Homo sapiens: one gene and its partner. The protein of the gene in region 2 purifies or fractionates together with the protein of the main gene of each other region. This does not show direct contact. Each region holds a gene or a part of one and is shown on either strand. Other genes may lie near its edges.

The links.
Region 1: the proteins of CCNJL (region 2) and STC2 purify together in Homo sapiens (affinity purification with mass spectrometry; 3 studies listed by BioGRID and IntAct, with this or other methods). This does not show direct contact.

What each region holds. Positions count from the first base shown.
Region 1 is NC_000005.10:173,325,324-173,333,460, forward strand, and holds the start of STC2 (stanniocalcin-2 precursor), read right to left. Parts: upstream 3,092-8,137; 5' UTR 2,871-3,091; coding exon 2,720-2,870; intron 688-2,719; coding exon 545-687; intron 1-544. UniProt on the Homo sapiens protein: Has an anti-hypocalcemic action on calcium and phosphate homeostasis.
Region 2 is NC_000005.10:160,248,469-160,253,995, forward strand, and holds the end of CCNJL (cyclin-J-like protein), read right to left. Parts: intron 5,331-5,527; coding exon 4,910-5,330; 3' UTR 615-4,909; downstream 1-614.

The DNA.
Region 1 (8,137 bases), about 13 Mb from region 2:
ATATTTATCATATAGAGCAAAAGGAAAGTGTGGAACTGAAGGACTCAATCAGGGTTTCGACCGGTCAGCTTGGGAGAGAAAGATCTGCTACTCAGGAGGAATAGAAGTCTGCTCTTTTGGAGGTCCTGAGTTATTCGGGTTGGCTGCCCACACACCACATGACGGATTTCTACATACTTTGTGTCTCATTTTCCTAGTAGGTGAAATGACTTCTGAAATGTATAATTGGGGGTTCCTGCCCCTGCCTCTCATGCAGTGGGCTTTGGAGACTGAGTTCTGGGTGGCCAGACACAGCGTGTCCCCTTACAAGGTGTTTATCGTTTATTATGACATTGGTCTCCAGTCCACCCTGCCTGTGTAGACACAGCTTATGAGTGCAGAAGGGAGACACTGGCATAATGTTTTATACCTAGACTGTCGCTTGCAAGCACTAAAACACACCACAAGGAACAGCAAAGGAAGTTGGTTAACAAGGCTTTCCAATGAACGTTTCAATCATGTATGCTCACCCCAAACATTCTTCATGCTCTGGATGGATTTTTACCTGGGCATCAAATTTTCCAGCGTTGTGCAGAAAAGTCATGCAAATCCCATGTAAGCCCCGAATCTCACAAGAGTTGTTCTCGAAACATTCAAACACGCCACACCCCACATCGCCAGCGTTGACCAAACAGTGCTGGATCTCCGCTAAAAGGAAAATCACATACAAATATATACAAAACTCTAACCCATGCTGGGCAATGCAGAGAGGTCATTTGAAATAAAAGTTAACAACTAAAGGAAAATTTAAGGAGGAAAAAAGACTTAGTAATGACTATTTCAGGACCTAAAAAGCCTGGGAAACAAAATTTCGTCCTTTAATCTACTCATGAAAAATATCTCTATTTGTAAATATTTGTAGAAAAGAGCCGAAAAATTACAAAAATTACAACCAGAAGGCTGGTCTGAGCATTCCTCCTTTTCATCCTTTCCATTTTATTAAAGTATTTGTGGGAATACTTAGTTTGAGAGCAAAATATATTTCCGCTTTTTAAACCCACAGACAAAAATAAAATTTTGAGTCGAAGACTGTACTTCATCAATGAAGTACCCTTCTCTACTTGATCTGTAGAAGTTGCTGCTATTAAATCACAGCCATTTGCTTCCTGACCCCCAAATGACAGCATCTAAAAAGCAGTTTCAATTCAGCTTTATGATTCAACACCTAAAAATCAAAACAAAATTCCTATTAAGGCAGTGCCTCCCAACCCTTCGCATTAAAATACCAGCTAGGGAAGCTGCGGTTGGCGAGCAGGCTTAGGAGTGGAGTCAGCTGGGGGCGAGCCTTCAGAAACGCCACTATCAGAGGTTGCAGGCTCCTTTTAATTAGGGATCCGGGTGAGGTATCACCCAATCCCCTAGAATTCCCGCAGCCCGGGAGGAAGCTTGCAGCCCTTCACCGAATGTGGCCCCCAGTCCTCTCTCGGAAGGGGCAGACGGAGGGAGTTAACTGTCAGGCTGCAGCGTGCAAAGCCTCTTCCCTCCCTTTCCACTACCCAAGTCTCTGATTTAAATCAACCACAAAATTACATCAGAAAAGTATATTTTGGAAGAAGGGCGGGGTCGGAGCAGATAACCCGCATCAGATTAAATCTAGCCAGAGAATGAGGGGCGTGTATTGTTGAGGGTCACCGACCACCGAGAATCAGGTTCAGTTCTCAGAGGAAGCGCCAGAGGAGGGGGAGGGTGGGCGAGGGTCTCGGGGTGGTGGGGGTGCCGGCCCCAGCATGTGGAGGCGACAGGATCCGTAAGACCCCACGCGCCGCCGGGGCAGGACCGCACAGGGCCGCCATTCACTCACTTGGGGCGTCCCTAATGGGCACTCGTGCATTCCAGCTCGTGCGGTGAGCGCACGCACGCCGCCGCTGCCGCGTTCACACGGCCCCCCAAAGTCGGGGGAGGGGTCGTGGAGCGAAGGAGCTGTAGGCAGATTTTCTTTCTCTTTCCGAGCTGGGAAAAGGGCCAGCCCCGTGCCCTGCACGCCTGGCTCTGCTTTGCAGCTTGCCGGTGAGCCAAGAGCCGGTAGAGCAGAGGAGGCGCACGGTTCGGGTCGTGTCACCATTTCTTGGCTTGCTGACCTGGCCAGGAGCTGGGGATGGCGGCAGCACCGCGGAGGTACGCTTTGCGCTGCCCTCACGCTCCCTTCCGAAAGCAGTGCCCCCAGGGGGAAAGTTCGCAATGCCATTTGTCTCGCCGGCAAAGTTCTGGGATGTCGGGCATCTTTTGAGGAGGGGGAAGACGCGGCACCCTTACTGAGGCCGGCAGGCCAGGAAGAGAAGTTCTCCGGGCGCAGGGCGCAGCCCAGCTCCGGGGACCCTCTGGGCCTCCCGCGTGCCGGCCGGGATGAAGCGCGCTTTGCACCGGACCCGGGATTCGGGGGCGGGGGCTGGCGCTGGCAGCGTCAGACGCTGCTTCATTTCCCCTCGACCCTGGGGAGGACAGCAACAAGTCCTGCCCCAGCCATTTCATCACCCTGCTAGCACGTGCAGATTCCGGGCCCTCGGAGCCCGGCGCGGACCTCGCCTTGCCTCGCGCTTCCCTTTGCACGTCCCGTGCCATCCCAAGAGTTTGCGTGGCCCTGGGTGGGCGCCTGGCTCCCGGCGAAACGCCTGGGGCGCGCCGCGTGGGTGCACGGTGTCCTCTCCCAGTAGCTCCCGGCTGCGGGGGCACATGCACTTACCTGTATTCTGCAGGGACAGGCGGCCTTTCTGCTGGGAGCTCCTGTCTTGGGGACCCTCGGGTGGGTTGGTGGCGTCGGTCCCCCGCGCCGGGTCAAAGGTGGCCAACACCAAAGCCAGGGTCATGAACTGGCCCAGCCGCTCGGCACACATGGTTCTTGGTATTAACCTCCCGTCGGGAGACCTGGATCCTTTGTGCTCCCCTCTTCCTCCTCCTCCTCTTCCTCCTTCGCCGCTTCCCCTCCTCCTCCCACTCTTCCTTTTTGCTCGCCTTTTCCCTCCTCCTCGCGGCCGCGGCTCGGATAGAGGTTACCCAGCGCCCTCCCGTAGCTCTCCGGAGAGCATGTGACCAGGCCGTTAGCAGCGCCGCGAGTGCCCGGCAATGGCAGGGATGGTGCCTCAAATATCCCTGGAAGCTCTGGTGTCACTTGAATGAAGGAGTCGAGCAGGTGTTGTCCCGGCGGCTGGACCAATCCGAGACCCCGGCCCTTTTGACAACACGGCCGGGAGGCGGGGCCTGCGCTCAACTACTACAGGAGGAAGCCGAGCGCCGCTGGGAGCGCCGGACAAAGTTGCCGACCTGGCGGCGGCCACGCGTTTGCGTGCGTGTGTATGAGTGTGTGTGAGCGCGGCCGGAGATGCGTGCGCGTGTGCGGGTGCTCCAGGGCAATGGTCGAAAGGACTGTACAATATAAGAGCGAATCCAAGCTCCAGTTGCTGTTAAAGGGGGACGGTGTGCTCTGGGACAGTGTCCCTGGGGCCCCTGGCTCGCGTCACACCCACATCGGGTTGGGAAAGTTTCCTCTTTCCGCCGTTTGGAATTCAGTGAGATTCCCAGCCCAGAGGACTTGATAAATTGAAGCAGTTTCCTAGGCACAATGATGCTGTGGGCCAACTGAGCACACATGGGAATTCCTGGCCTTGTGACACTTTGCATTAAAAAGAACCCCACGATTGAAGATAGGAGCAGAAGCACTAGATACAGTATTTGGTCTGAGCAACTGCCCTATCTTCCCGCTTTGGTGGGCCGTGCAACACCTGGAGTGTCGTTTCTCGTCTTTCCCCTAATCCAGACGCATTCCAGGCTGGGCTGCAGGGATCCAGGTGACAGTCAGGACTTGCATCATTTCCAGGAGGGTGGCAGGGAGGCCCAAGGCAGCCCTGAGTCAGCCCGCCGCGGAGCATCGCGTGCCCGGAGGCCAGAGCTTGAAAGGCAACTTTACGCGTCTCCAAACACACTCCTGCATTTTCTCAAAGCGCTGCTCGCCACCCCGCTCCGGGTTCCCTTTTACTCTCCAGTCATCCGATGGAAGTGGTGAGAACAAAAACAAAGACAAAAAAGCTAAATCCGGGGAAGTTATCTCCATCTCCTCCCTTTTCTTGTTCGGCCCCCTCCCCAAGAACCGCCGGGTCGGGATAGCCCCCGGCTACTTTCTCACCCGGCCCGTGGAGGGAAGGAGAAAGTTGGGCGCCGCTTGGAGCGCCTCTTCCCCTGCTGTGTGTGTACGTGTGCACGCTCACGTCTCCCCCGCGCCGGGGCCGGGGACAGGAACTGCTCTCGGTCCCGTCACCCCACGGCGCAGCTCGGGGGGCTCGCAGGGCTGGGGGAGGGCGGGGACACGAGCGCCGCGCCCAAGCGCCCCAGGGCACGCACCCGGCGTTGGCGCGCACTCGCCCCTCCCCCCGTCCCCACCCTCCTCCTGGAGAACAGGTGAGCCCCGGTACCAGCTCTCGATCCCCCACCCCCGCCCCGCGCCCCGCCCGCGCCCTCTGCGGTAATGCGCCTGGGAAGTTTCATCACCCACTGCCCAGGCGACGCGGCCCTGGGTCTCCGCGGCGGGGCGCACTGCCCGCCTGGTTGGGGCCGCCATGTGACACGGCTGGGGGAGGGGGCGAGGAGACACGCGGGCAGGTCATCTTTTGGCCGGCGCTTGACTTCCAAAGCTTTCCTTTCCCGTGTCCCGGCTGCACGCGGGAGTGGGGAAGGCGGAGGCGGGGGGCCAGGATGGCCACGGCTGGCCGCAGCTATCCGGCGTGTCGAGCTCTCCTGAGTCGGAAGGAAGGAGAGGAGGGGGTGGGGAGGGCGTCTTCAGAGTGGGCTTCCCCTGCGCTGGAGCGCCAGGGAGCATCCATAAATTGTCACTTTGAAGGTCCGAACCTGCGGCGGTAGGGACCATGCCCACTATTCTAATAGCAATTACTCCGCGCAGCCTTGGATCTTTTGTGCAAGGACGTGCGGGTACAAATACATTAAAACGGCCAGTTCACATTGCCCACCCTGCTTGTGTTTGCATAGTTAACTTAGCTTCCTAGTTTATGGAAAACTACCTCCTGTAGATCCTTAAAAACAAAGCAAACAAACGACACAGCGGCATTCTGGCCTCTCCTAACTAACTCTTTAAGGCTCTGAATTTCCTGAGAACAAGTAGCCATTTGGTCCCACTCCTGCTTATGGGTACAGCTGGGTAGACTTTCTTTCTATGTGGCCTCTTTTGTAGGAGAGAACATGAGCAATATTGACATTAAGAAGGCATCTGGTCACCTGTTTTTTTTTGAGAAGCAGAAATAGGAGAGAGCTCCATGGGGCAGGAGCAAGCCCTCTTTTGCCAGATGCAGACACTTAGTGTGCTGGGCAGAGGCCTCCCAGGATACCTGGAGCGATGGCCAGGGGGATGGAGCTCTCCCTGCTCCTGCTTTGCCCAGCCTTTGGCTAGGCCTACCTTTTGCTACCATGGGGCCCCTGGGGCTGCCCTCAGAGGACCTACATAGTTTCAAAGTTCGTCCTGAGGCTGTTTGCTCCTGCCTTCCAAGGGACATTCCTGGTTTTCACCTGAGCCAACTGCCCCTTTAGAACCAAAAGAACACATAGTAGCTAGAATTGGAGGTGGCGTAAGCACAGGCACTAGTTCTTAAGGGTTTATCTCTGGGCCACTTAGCCAAGTCCAAAGCATCCAGATAAGAATGCCCATCTGAGTCCGACCCGCCAAGGCTGTGAAAATTCCCTTGCAGAATCACTAGGCAGTTTGCTGAAATGGCCAGTCTAGGCCGCAGGGGTAGAAGTGGGATGGGGGCTCAGACTGGTGACTTTGTTGTGATTGACTCCCCCTCTCTCTGGCTGATTCCTTTAGCTTTATAACTGAGGCCAAGTTTGGCAGACTGTGGCTGATGAGGGTGGGGCAGGGGACAGTAATAATAATCATTATTACTATTATATAGCTAACATGACACCGCACCACACACCACACTCATGCCTTTGGTGTCCCTCCAGACCTAGGGCCCTCCCTAGATGGGAACTGAGGCCTGGGAGGTCTCCTGGATGGACCAGCTGCTGTCCTGAGGTTCAGCAGCACCTGTCTGGATGGGCCCTCCTCCTCAATTTAACGCATACACAGCCAGGAAGAGGCAGACATGACCTACCTTGTGTCATCCAGGGCCTTCTGTGGTTGACGCCTGGAGCCCATGTTTTCCTGTCTAAATCCACTTTGCTAGTTACATGCGGTCAACACTGAGTGGCAGGTTTTGGGGGAGGGGATATTTGGGTTAGACCATGAAGGATGGGGGAGGATAGTGACAAGTAGAGGCAAGGAAAAAAGTGGGCATGGGAGGTGGGAGGACCAGCAGGGCTAAATGCATGGAGAGGATCCGGTGGGATTTGTATCAGGAATAGGGGTTGCCCAGTTAGGTGTGAAAGTGGGACATCAAACTGGGGAAGTCGGCCAGGGCATGTTGTGAAGGCTGGGCTCCTTGTGACAAATCTGTGCTCCTCACGGAAGATCTGACGGTATTTAAGGATGAGACTGTAGGGCGCTTTAGACTAGGTTCTCTTTAGGAATTAGGAAATGCTCAGGGGCCCAGAGCTGCCATTGTGGAGAAAGAGCAGAGGAGTGGGAAGGAATTAGTTGGAATCTTCACGTGCGTCTCGATGCCCAGCAAGACAGACGTGTTCTTGCTCGAGTGTGAGCCGAAGGGGCTTTAGCGGATGGGCATAGTTCGTGGGTGCTGAGTCAGTGATGTGCAAGTTGACACGTGCTGCCTGGTCCAGGCTTTCTGAGTTCCGGAACCTGAGTGGAGAACATGGCTTACACGTGGGGAGCTCCACCCACTGCACGCCCCGCCCCCTTGGGGCCGACTGTCTGGGCTGATGGCACCACCTTATGGTCAGAGAGGGAACTGTCTGGCTACACAGTCCTCACGACTCTGCCTGCCTGGAAAGTTCTGATATTGGGTCTCCAGCCTTCTCCCCAGTTTCCTTTCCTTTTCTTAGCAAATCAATTAATGCAGATTTAGCCAATCTCCTCGCAATAACATGCCTTAATCCCCCCATCAAAGAGATCTCTTTCACACTTATTTTCCCTCTTGCTCCCCTATCCGTTGCTGTTTTCCTTTGTGAGTCTCAAATTTACCCTAATCCTGGCTCCTGTGCATCATACCTGTATGAAGGAAAATGAAAAAAGGTATCAAGGTGAAACCGGACAGAAAAAAATAACAAACTGCTGCTATCAGGCCTCCCAAATTATCTTGCAAGCAGAGGTCTCTCCCTAAAAAGCCTCCATCTCCCAGCACTTTGGGAGGCTGAGGTAGGTAGATCGCTTGAGCCCGGGAATTCGAGACCAACCTGGGCAACATGGCAAGACCCCGTCTCTACAGAAAATACAAACATTAGCCAGACGTGGTGGTATGTGCTTGTAATCGCAGCTACTCGGGAGACTGAGGTTCTGGGAGAATGGCTTGAGTCCAGGAGGTTGAGGCTGCAGTGAGCTATGATTGCACCACTGTACTCCAGCCTGGGTGACAGAGCAAGACCCTGTCTCAAAAAAAAAAAAGCCTCTATCTTTGCTCTTATCTTTTTTTCATTAAACTGGTTATTTCATTAAATATAATTCAGGATAAAGGAGATTATATCTTCAATATTTGGGTTTGTTTATTCTTAATACTATAACCAAATTATATTCTACTAATTTATACCATAAAAGTGCAGTGCCCAACAACACAATGAGTTAAGAAGGATTTTGTGGTGCTGGCCTGTAAACCTATCATGTATAATATTGTTTCTTGGAAGAAAATATATTCTGAGTTCCCCAAACAACCAACTTTGGAAGTGTGGGAACACAACGCTTTTGTGAATTGGGCATTTCCTCTCTGTCACAGATCAATAGTCAAACCATTCATGGATTGACTGGAAATACAAAAGAAAAAAAAGCATTAAAAAAACCCCCAAGAGAGTAGGAACACAATAAACCCATTTACTGGAAGGAATATAAAGTAGTAAACACTGGGCATCTGACTGTAGTCTGAGTTTTGTTAACGCCTTTCTCTGAAGCCTGAATGGTATTCCAGAAGGCCTCTCTGTTTTACATGGGTCATAATTTTTTCTTCCTTGTTGTATCTTGAGACAAACTCCAGGAGAACGTATCCCAGGC
Region 2 (5,527 bases):
AGTGGAACAAACGACATAAAACAATAAAATAAAACACAGTGGAGTAAAACCTCCCTTGAAGGCCCAGGTCAACACCTAACCCACTAAGACTTAATCGGGTCTGCCTCTTCGGTGGGTTTGATGATGGCTGGATGGAGGACAGGCGCCCTCTGCTCCCTGCACTACCTCCATCTTTTTGCCCTAGGGCTTTTTATAGAGTGACAATAGCCCCGCCCATAGGAGCTCACAGTCCAGAATCGTCTTAATTCACACACACCCACAGTGCACACTTGTATATTTAAAAGATAGGGAAGAGGCTGGGCGGGTGGCTTATGCCTGTAATCCCAGCACTTTGGGAGGCCGAGGCGGGTGGATCACTTGAGGCCAGGAGTTTGAGACCAGCCTGGCCAACATGGTGAAACCCTGTCTCTGCTAAAAATACAAAAATTGGCCGGGCATGGTGGCGCGCACCAGTACTCCCAGCTACCTGAGAAGTTGAGGCAGGAGAATTGCCTGAACCTGGGAAGCAGAGGTTGCAGTGAGCCGAGATCGGACCACTGTACTCCAGCCTGGGCGACAGAGTGAGACCCTGTCTCAAAATTAAAAAGAAAAAGGAAGAAATAAAAGATCTGGAATCAGTCTTTAGCAACTTTAATACTTCTTGATTTTTTGCCTAGTGTATTTCATGAGGAGGTCAGCTCATTTGCTCCCATTTGAACCATGCTGCCTCTGAAACTTAATTACATCCAGAAAGGACACTTGCATGCTAGTTTATCTATGGTCAGTTGTGGAATAGGTCTGTTTCTATATGCACATGTAACCCAAATGTCAAATATAAATTGGGTTAGGTGGGAAAAATAATTTTAAAAGGTGGAAAAAGTTCTATTATGTTGACATGCTTAAATATTGGTATATTGAGTATTCTTTCATCAGCATCTCATATTTACTGGCAAATACAGGTAATTTCTGTGTACTTTGAGATAATTCTGTTAAATTCATATAGACGTCAGAAAATACTTTTCAAAACAAGCTGGACCAGGCGTAGTGGCTTATACCTGTAATCTCAGCACTTTGGGAGGCCGAGGCAGTCAGATTGCTTGAGCTCAGGAGTCTGAGACCAGCCTGGACAACATGGTGAAACCTCATCTCTACAAAAAATACCAAAATTAGCTGGGTATGGTGACAGGTGCCTGTAGTCCCAGCTACTCAGGAGGCTGAGGTGGGAGGATCACTTGAGCCCAGAAGGTTGAAGCTGCAGTGAGCCGTGACTGTGCCACTGCACTCTAGCCTGGGCCACAGAGTGAGACCCTGTTTCAAAAAATAAATAAATAAATAAATAAATAAATAAATAAATAAATAAAATAAAAATTTAAAAAATCAAACTAAACTGGGGAGTTATAAAAATACAACTGAAATATAAAAAACAAACAAAGAAATCATATGCCTGAATGACCAAGAAGCTGGCTAAAGTGCAGATTCCAGGTCCCCACCCCTCCTAGAGAAGGCTCCAGGTCATTCTGCAGCTTGCTCAGGCTTGAAAACCTCTGAATTTAACCTGATGCCAGCCCTGGGAGGAACTTTAAGACTATCTTTGTGCTTTTTAAAGCTTTCATAGCTGTCCTCCAGCATGGGAATTAACACAATCTTACATGGGAGTGCCCAAGGGTGGAAGAAATACAAGTGGATCCCTCTGGCTGAAGGCCACAGAGGTCACAGCCTCTGTGGCACAGTCTCCCCCCGCCCCAAGAGCTTAGAACCATCCACCAACTTGACCATCTCCATAGTAACAGATGGAGAAATGGAAGCCCAAAGAGGGAGGGATTTGTCCAAAGTGAGGTGGGTGCTCTTGGTCAACCCAAGACTTGCCTTGTCTCTGAATCCCCAAAACTTAGAGCTTCCTGCCTCACCTAGCCTTGCACACAGCGGGTGGTGAGCACTGCCCTCAGCCCCGCCCTTGGCGGTGTCAAACACACTCCTGGGTCTGGGCTGCAGCCTCAGGCCCTGAGCTCATCTTCCCATTCCTCCCCTAATTGTCTAATCAAAGGCATCTGCACTTAGCAAATGTCTCAGCCCCACAGTGACACCGGCTCTCTGGGGTGGTTCTCCTGCTGGAAGCTGGGTAGGTAGAGGGCAAGACAGAAGTCTTGAGTGAGACTCCCTTCAAGGAGGAGTACGAATCTGACATTTTTCATAACAGCTGATGCTATATCTCATCAATTCTACATATACATATTTTGACATGTAACGCTTCTGAAATCAGAATGCAACATATAATCAATGGTATCTTGCAAACTGCCTCATGATTTAGTTTTCTAAAAAGTCTTATTAGTGCATAAAATAATAGTGCATCTTACAAAAAGCTGATCTTATGCTTGAAGAAATATAATAATTATCTCCTTTTTTGGAGGTACTGGCCTTGATGTACATTATGTTATTTAATCCTCTTAAGAACCCTATGAGGCAAGGTGTTATCACTCCCATTTTAACAGGTGACAAGATGGAGGCTCAGAGAGAGGTTGGGTCAACTGCCTTCCAACAGCTGGTAAGTGGTGTGATCATTAAGTTTATGTGGCAGCTTGGCTAGGCTACAGTGCCTGTTGTGTGGCTAGGTACTAGTCTAGATGTTGCTGTCAAGGTATTTTTAGATGTGATTAACATTTACAATCAGTTGACTTTAAGAAAAGCCTCCATAATGTGGGTGGGCCTCATCCAACTGGTAAAAGGTCGTAAGAGCAAAGATTGAGGTTTCCTGGAGAATAAATTTTGCCTCACGACTGCTAACACAGAAATCATGCCTGAGTTTCCAGCCTGTGGGCCTGCCCTACAGATTTTGAACTCTACTGCAACATCAGCTCTTACCTGAATTTCCAGCCTGCTGACATGCCCCACAAATTTTAGACCACAGCCTCTGCAATCACATGAGCCAATTCCTTAAAATAAATCTCTCTCCATATATATCCTACTGGTTTCTTTGGAAAAACCCTGAGACGGTGATGGAGCTGGGGTGTCAAGCCTTATACACCCCTCCGCTGGCCTCTGTGTGCCCAGGGAGGCCCAGCTCCTACTCAGAGGGCAGGACTCAGCTCCCGAGGTCTTGCTGCTGCCCCCAATATTCCACCCTCTACCATAGGGAGATGCTCACCAGGGCTGATTTGAGAGAGGGAAGGAGGGGCCGGCCCAAGAGGGGATGCCTAGGACAAGAGGTGAGAGATCAAGAGCAGGTGACGTGTTTATTGTGGGACGCCTCTTTCTGGGGGTCGTGCTGGCTGTGAGGGAACCCTCACAATCCCCAGGTCCCAGAACAGACAGATACAAGAACTTGAATCCAAACTGCTTGCACATAAATAGAACGGAGGTTGGCAAAGGAAAAAAAAACAACAACAAATGAACGTGCAGCCTCCTATGCTAGTGTGACACGGTGGCAGAGTCTTATCCACACCCCGTCTCTTTTCTTACTGTCTCCATGCTGAGATTTTCAGCTGCTCTGGAAAGATTCACCACCTTCCGATCTGACTCAGCAGCAGACAGCTGCCTTCCTGGCGGCCCCTGCCACAGTCTCCAGGACTGGCAAGGGGCTAAGGAATCCAAGACAGGTATTCCTCAAACAAAACAAAAATTGCTTCCACGGTCCTTTGCACCTCCCAGTTCTGCTGGGTGAACAATGTGTCCCCCAACCCCAAACTAAACCAAAGAACATGCTGAGCACAAGCTGCGAGTCAGAATAAAAACATATTGCACATGGTTACAAGAGTCTTCCTGAGGGCCCTCTCGCTGCAGATCCCTAAATACTGGCTTTTGATCCAACCAGTCGCTTGCCTATCAATGGTGGTATCAAACGCCCATGTACATCCCACTCCCCAAATACAGGTGGGACTAAGCAAATTTTCCACATTGCTATCCTTCGCTATCAGCCACACTCAAAGCCTAGACTGGGTTAAACTCATGCCCTGTAAGTATGTGGTGGAGAGAGGTGGGAACTGTTTAAATCTTTGTCTTCCTTTCAACGAGCTTCTCCCTCCCTGGGTAGTTATTAAAGTTCTAGTGGTGAACACAGCCTCCAAGACGTGGAATCTTCCGGAACCGAGAGCTGGGAAAATGGTTCTCTCCAACCATATGCCTTCAAAAAGGAAGCTCTGTGGTTACCTGCGGGTCCATCACAAGTTGGGTTCAAACTTGGGTTCCAAATTAACAGCCCTCATGTGGGACAGGCAGTGTGGCAATTAAATTTGTTTTTTTCTCCAAAGGAATTTTCAAGTATCACCAAATCCCTGATACAGTGTGTAAACAAGACATCTTACGAAACAGAAAGCAAGACCACTTCGGGAAGCAGCAGCACATGACATATCTAAAAGGCTGAAAATGGTTTTAGGTTCGAAAACAAAGGCAAGACAGCCACCCACTGTGCCTCGCAAGGCAAACACTCAGGCATACACACCAACTCAGGCCCCTCTGCATAGAGCCAGGGAAAGAAAAGCACCCAATATGGGATCCTCCGGGGGTCCTGAGAACACGCCAGGCTGCCCCTCCTTTTTCAGCGGTGTAGCTGCCATCAGCAAAGAATAGAAAAGTCTTTAATGCTAAAAACTGGACATGCTTGAGATCAGTGGTCTGTGTCCAGTTCCCACTCTCCTGGCCTCTTATCAAGTCTTTCTCGATTCACTGGGCCCCTGTGTGGGGGGACGGCCACCAAGCCATCCTTTTGTACCCTAGCCACACGTGGCAGACGTTTCTCAGAGGAATGCTCTCGGGTGAGGTATGTTATTGAATGTTTTGCTCTGGGTCAGTTTTATTTAAAAGGAGCACAGACCCTCCACGTTCCAAGGCTCTTCAGGGATGGCCTCCTGCTGCCTCACTTGGCTGAGCTCTCCTCTTCAGTGTCCTCTTCCTCTGCCCACATCTCCAAGGCTTCCTCGTGAGGTCTGGAGGTGGCCTATCTGTCAAAGCAGCCGGTGGGGAACATGTGGCTCCCACTGAAGTAGCTGCTTCCATAGGTGGTGGCGAGGCAGTGCCTGGGCTCAGCTGCAATGGCCATATGCATGCTAAGGGATGCAGGGACGGGCACGGGACACATATCCAAGGGCTGCAGCGGTTGGTACGGGGTGTGGAGGGATGAGCCTGTACTCCCCGAGAGCAGGCTCCCTGAACGGTGGGCCTGCAAGGAGTCCCGATAGGCCAAGCATAGGTCCTGCACGGGGGTCTGGAACTGTGCCAGGGTGGTCGCTGGCTGGCCGAGGGCCGGGTAGGCTGGTGGCTGGAACAGCACTTGAGTGGGGGTGGGGGGTGTGCCGGGCACCATTGCCAAGGCCTGGCTCTTGACGGCTACGGCATCCTTGAGGACGTTGTCATACACTCTGAAACGAGAAGACCTGGGTGAGAACTGGAGGCCAAAAGCCACCAGATGCCTGTGTGTGTCTCTACCTGTCTTGCTAAGTGGGACTGGAAGAGATGCGTGTGTCCTGTGTCCACCAGGCCTTACCTGGCTGTGCTCACTGTGTGTGGCACCGCTCCAGCTGTTCACAAACTAGATTCAGGCCTTGGCTCTCAGCTT